2 separate regions of the Homo sapiens genome follow, and region 1 is linked to region 2. Evidence: fine-mapped expression QTL. A gene starts in region 2. The other region holds a variant in brackets. All regions are shown on one strand. Distances are from middle to middle.

Region 1 (2,909 bases), 24 kb after region 2:
ATTTTTACATATTTTTAGTAGAGCCGGAGTTTCACCATGTTGGCTAGGCTGGTCTCGAACTCCTGACCTCGAGTGATCCGCCCGCCTTGGCCTCCCAAAGTGCTTTAATTAATATTTTTAAAAAGTTAGTCATGGTGCCTGTAGTCCCAGCTACTCCAGAGACTGAGGCAGGAGGATCACTGGAGCCCAGGAGGCAGAGGCTACAATAAGCCGAGATCGCAGCATTGCACTCCAGCCCATGCAACACAGTGAGACTCTGTCTCAAAAAATAAAGGTCAATCATGGTTTCTTCAGCTGTCAAATCTCAGGGTGCTGGGAGTACTGAATAAATTAAGGCATGTTAGGTCAGTGGGGCAGCGCCTGTCAGCTGGGAACCAACTTTATTCCCCTCCTCTCCTTGAAAAGCTCTCATAATTGGCCTACTCCATCCCGCCCACTCTTGGTCACTCTCACTTGGTCTTTCCTTCCAAGTCATCAAGTGATTTCCAGAGCCACTGCATGGACCTTCCTGAGATGGTGGCAAGCTGCCTCAGTACACACATTAAGCCAGCATTTAAAAAGGCACTGCCAGCCGAGCGTGGTACCTCATACCTGTAATCCCAGCACTTTGGGAGGCCGAGGTGGGCAGATCCCTTCAGGTCAGGAGTGCAAGACCAGCCTGACCTTCATGGCAAAACCCCGTCTCTACTAAAAATACGAAAATTAGCCAGGCATGGTGGCACACACCTGGAGGAGGCTCTGTCTCAAAAAAAAAAAAAAAAGAGGCACTGCCTTGGAGAAGCTGTCCTGATCAGCAGCACATCTTAGACTGTGGGATTACAGGTTCCACAGTACTGGGCAGAAACCACCTAGAGTAGGCCAGGCGCAGTGGCTCACGCCTGTAATCCCAGCACTTTAGGAAGCCCAGGTAGGCAGATCACTTGAGGTCAGGAGTTTGAGACCAGCCTGGCCAACGTGGTGAAACCCTGTCTCTACTAAAAATACAAAACATTAGCCAGGTATGGTGGCTTACGCCTGTAGTCCCAGCTACTTGGGAGGCTGAGACACAAGAATGACTTGAACCTGGGAGGCGGAGGTTGCAGTGAGCTGAGATCGTGCCACTGCACTCCAGCCTGGGTGACACAGTGAGACTCCGTCTCAAGAAAAAACAAACAAACCAAAAAAACACCTAGAGTTATCTTGGTGATCAGATGCCTTCAGATGAGGATGCATGTGCACTGCCTTAGTTTGTCTGACAAGTTGCTATGGACTAAATGTGCCCCCCACACATAAAGCCCTAATCCCCAATGTGATGGTATTAGGAGGCGGGGCTTTTGAGAAGTCAATAGGTCATGAGGGTGAAGCCTCAGGAATGGGATTAGTGCCCTTAGAAGAAGAGACATGAAAGAGAGAGATCCCTGCCAGATGAGGATGCAGAGAGAAGGTGGCTGTTTACAAGCCAGGCAGCAGGTGCTCACAGACACCAAAACTACTAGCACTTCGCTCACGGACTCCCCAACCTTCAGAACTGTGAGAAATAAATGTCTGTTGTTTAAGCCACCCAGTCTCTGGCATTGACTAAGATACAAGTTTTCAGGCTCATTGCTAAAAGAGCAGGAGAAAGGTCCCTCCCATGGCTGTGTGGAGCTGGACAGTCATAGCTTGGGAGAGAGTGCCAGTGCCTTCACACCATGGGGACAAGTGGCCTCTTCATGACCCTCCTTCCAATCCCTCCAGCCCCTGATCCTCTTCATGACCCTTTACCACTGCCTCCTTCCAATCCCTCCAGCCCCTGAGCCCCATCCAGGGCTGGAGGAATTGAAA[G/A]ATGGCATTGCAATAAATTCCCCTCTCTTATGTCACTTTTTTTTTTTTTTTTTTTTTTTTGAGACAGAGTCTTGCTCTGTTGCCCAGGCTGGAGTGCAGTGATGCGATCTCAGCTCACTGCAACTTCTGCCTCCCAGGTTCAAGTGATTCTCCTGCCTCAGCCTCCCGAGTAGCTGGGACTACAGGCGCCCACCACCACGCCCAGCTCATTTTTGTATTTTTTAGTAGAGATGGGGTTTGGCCATGTTGGCCAGGCTGGTCTTGAACTCCTGACCTCAGGTGATCCACCCGCCTCAGCCTCCCAAAGTACTGGGATTACAGGCGTGAGCCACTGTGCCTGGCCTCTTATATCACCTTTCTAGTTAAGGATCAATCCAGAAATGTATGGAATTCCTTATTGGGCCACCCCTGTATATAGTTTGCTCGAGGCAGAATTTCACAAAACCTGATGCCCCATAGCCTGAGAGAATTATTCTAGGCTTAGAGTCTGCTTCAAAAAGAAAGTCTTTCTTTCTAACAGGAAGCACCCAACAGGGACTTCTAGATCAGTGGTTCTCAACCTGGGGAGACCTTGCCCTTCACAGGACATGGGGACTTTTTTGCTTGTCACAACTGGAGAGGATGCTACTGGCATCAAAAGAGAAGAGACCAGGCACGCTGCTCAGTGTCTTAGAATGCACAGGAGAGCCCACGACAAAGGGTTATCCAGCCCAAAATATCCATAGTGCCGATGAGAAAACCTGTTCTAGATCAAATATTTTTAACAGGGGCAATTCACCCCAAGAGGGTACAAACTAGTTCTTGGTAGCCAAAAAAATCTTAACATTTTTTTACATACAAAGCATAGACATGCATTCAGCACATAAGTAGATATACAATATATCTTCGATATTAAAATAGCCTAAATAGACACACAGTATATGTTCGGTATTAAACTCTATTTGGTATAGTATTATCTTTGGGGCGGGCAGGGGCGATTAGGAAAAAACTGTCTAAAAGGCTCCTTAAGGGGCAATCACAGAAAAAAACATCAAGAAACACTGTTTTAGATAAAAATGACACTGGTAAAGTGGAGAAAGCAAATACAGTATTTTTGGAGTTGCCGA
Region 2 (2,909 bases):
TGTCCCTCTGCTGTGTTCCTGAAGCAGGTGACAGTGATGTAATCCTATGCAAAGAGTATTGCTACCTCCTAATCAGAACACTGCTGACCCCAGGCCAGCCTCAAAAATCCTCCAGGATTTTTGTCTTCCTCATCATGTTAAAAGAAAAAAAAAAAGAAAAGACTTCAATATGGATGCTTTGCATGCTCATTGCTGGAAAATACAGACCAGGCCAGGCGCAGTGGCTCACGCCTGTAATCCCAGCACTTTGGGAGGCTGAGGCGGGTGGATCACTTGAGGTCAGGAATTCGAGACCAGCCTATCCAACATGGCAAAATCCCATCTCTACTAAAAATACAAAAATTAGCCAGGCGTGGTGGCGCGCGCCTGTAATCCCAGCTTCTCCGGAGGTTGAGGCAGAGAATCGCTTGAACCCGGGAGGCAGAGGTTGCAGTGAGCCGAGATAGCGCCACTGCACTCCAGCCTGGGTGACAGAGCAAGACACCAAAAAAAAGAAAAGAAAATACAGACCAACAAAAAAGAAGAAAATAAAAGTGATCTAGAATTCTCCTCGCCTCAGGAAAAAAACCTAAAATGTTGATATCGATTCTCCTCAGTATCTCAGATCACAAGGACCTTGTCCTCTGTGTTCATGAACTAGACCTTCCAGCGACACAGATTAACCCAACTGGAAGTTTCTGTTTGTTTTTCTCTGGAGTCGTTTTCTGGAGGTTGGTTCCCTAAACTTTTTGGGCGAGGGGCACGGATTCCGGAGATAGGTAGGTTGCAGTTGTGTTTGTTTGGGGTTGTTTTCATTTCCAAATATTCACCTCCCAGCTTGGGGGCCGAGAGGTATCTCAAGCCTTCTTTCGCAAAGGCATCTATATTCAAGACCCAGCCGTTTTACTCGGTGTTGTTTTTTTTCTTAGATTTTTTTTTTTTTTTTTGAGCCCCGGCAGCTTTTGTTCCTTTGAATTTAAGTGTTTGAAGCTTGGCGATGGCAGGAATTGGCTTTGGCCTTGAGATCTTAATATGTAATGATGACTGGGGCTGCAGGGGGCCCTGCCTCTCCCGCTGCCCTGCTCTGGAAGCGCCTGGGTATCTGAGAGTTCAGAGCAGGCTGGAGGGGCGGAGCTTGGAGGGACGCTGGCGGCCCGCGCCTCCGGTAACCTAGCAACCGACGCCCTAGCAACGCGAGGGGGCGGGACCGAGGGAGGAAGTCGGAAACTGGTGGCCGCGTCTCGCGAGAGTTGCTTTTGCGCGCGAACTGTAAGTGCCAGGGTCTCAGGGTCAGGTCGCGGCTGGTCACTGTGCAGGCGCTTGGGTGACGCGACGATCTCAGCGGATCTGGTCACCTTCGTCTCCCCGCCATGGAGACCTCAGCACTCAAGCAGCAGGAGCAGCCCGCGGCGACCAAGATCAGGAACCTGCCCTGGTAGGAGGAGGCCGAGCGGCGGCGGTGGGCAGAGGGGGCCAGGCGGCCGCGCGGGGAGGAGGTGGCTGGGGTGGCAGGTGACCGGACCCCAACCCGACCTCTTCCCGTCGTCTCCAGGCCTGCAGCCGGGACCGACCTGCAGAGGTTTCCCCCGACACCCCCCAGCTACCCAGACTCGTCCGTTCTGTTTAGGGCTTTTGCCAGTTCTCACCCTTTCACCCCCAGCTCCATTTGCCGAAGAAGAAGGCGGCTTTCGCACCTGGTGACAGCACAGGGGTTCGATCCCGCGTCTCCTGACGCCTGCAATGGCCTCCATGCCAAAATGCCCTCTTCCCACTCTTCAAAACCTGCGATGCGACTATTGGTCACATTTTAAACTAGTAATAACGCTCCCTGGTCAACTTTTATTGAATGGCATATTATTAGATTAGCAGACGCCCTGTTAGATGTTCGATCCTTACAAAGACCGTAGGAGGTAGGCACCGCTTCAAATTTTACACAGGAGGAAACTGCATTTTAGAAAGATGTAATGACTTCCCTATGGTCCAAGGGAGAAAATTGGCTTGGAGGTGAATCTAGGAAGTCTGAATTCAGATCTTGTACTCTTAACCATCCTACTTAAACAGCTATGTTCTCGCAATGCTTCCAAGACTTTGAAGCAATTTGGCTTGGCTTCGAAAAGCTGCAAGTTGTCATTGTCTAGTAACTAGTTCAATTTGTCTTTATTGTGGTTAAAAAAAACCCAGAAGATTGACAGTTGTAACTATTTTATGTATTTACGTATTTTTTTTTTTTAGAGACAGGGTCTCGCTCTGTCGCCCATGCTGGAGCGCAGTGGTGTGATCACAGCTCAGTGTAACCTCAAACATTGGGGTTCAAGCCATTCTCCTGCCTCAGCCTCCGAAGAACTGGGACTTTTAGAGGCGAGCTACCAAGCCCATCCTGTAACCATTTTAAAATGTACAATTCAGTGGCATTAAGTACATTCAGAATGCAGTGTACTGTTGTGGAGTCTTCCCGCTATCTAGTTCCAAAATTTCATCACCCCAAATGGAAATCCTTTACCCATTGACAGTTACTCCCCATTCTCCCCTTCCTCTAGCCCCTGGCAACCACTAATCTGCTTTCTATCTATGGATTTGCCTATTCTGGACATTTCATGTAAGTGGAATCCTACACTATGTGGCCTTTTGTGTCTGGTTTCTTTCACTCAGGATCATGTTTTCAAGGTTCATGCATGTTGCTGCTTGTATCAGTAGTTAATTTCTTGTTATGGCTGAATCATATTCCATTGTATGGACAGAAGAGATTTTACCTATCCATTCTTCTGTTGAAGTCTATTTGGGTAGGAGTTCAGTTTCAAATGCACTTTGCAATAGTAGGTGCCCATCAGGTTGAGATTATAGGCAAACAGCTGGAAAGATGAAGTTAGAACAGAGTTTTCAACCTCAGCACTATTGACATTTTGGGCCAGATACTCTGGGTGGGTTTAGGG

What was found. PIP is the estimated chance that this variant, and not a neighbour inherited with it, causes the effect. A credible set is the group of variants that fine-mapping cannot tell apart.
Region 1: its variant is the best candidate, but not a certain one, in a credible set for the expression of RFC5 in whole blood (TOPMed, PIP 0.75).

What each region holds. Positions count from the first base shown.
Region 1 is chr12:118,039,910-118,042,818 of GRCh38, forward strand. All of the region lies in intron 4 of WSB2 (WD repeat and SOCS box containing 2), which reads right to left. It also overlaps a transcript of RFC5 not described here. Among named protein-coding and RNA genes, the nearest start is that of WSB2, 20 kb to the right of the region's middle. The variant G/A (reference allele first, on the strand shown) is at 1,804.
Region 2 is chr12:118,015,479-118,018,387 of GRCh38, forward strand. RFC5 (replication factor C subunit 5) reads left to right here and starts at 1,225. Exons shown (of 11, transcript NM_007370.7): 1 at 1,225-1,414. The coding sequence starts at 1,350. RefSeq lists an enhancer at 933-1,102 and a silencer at 1,467-1,516.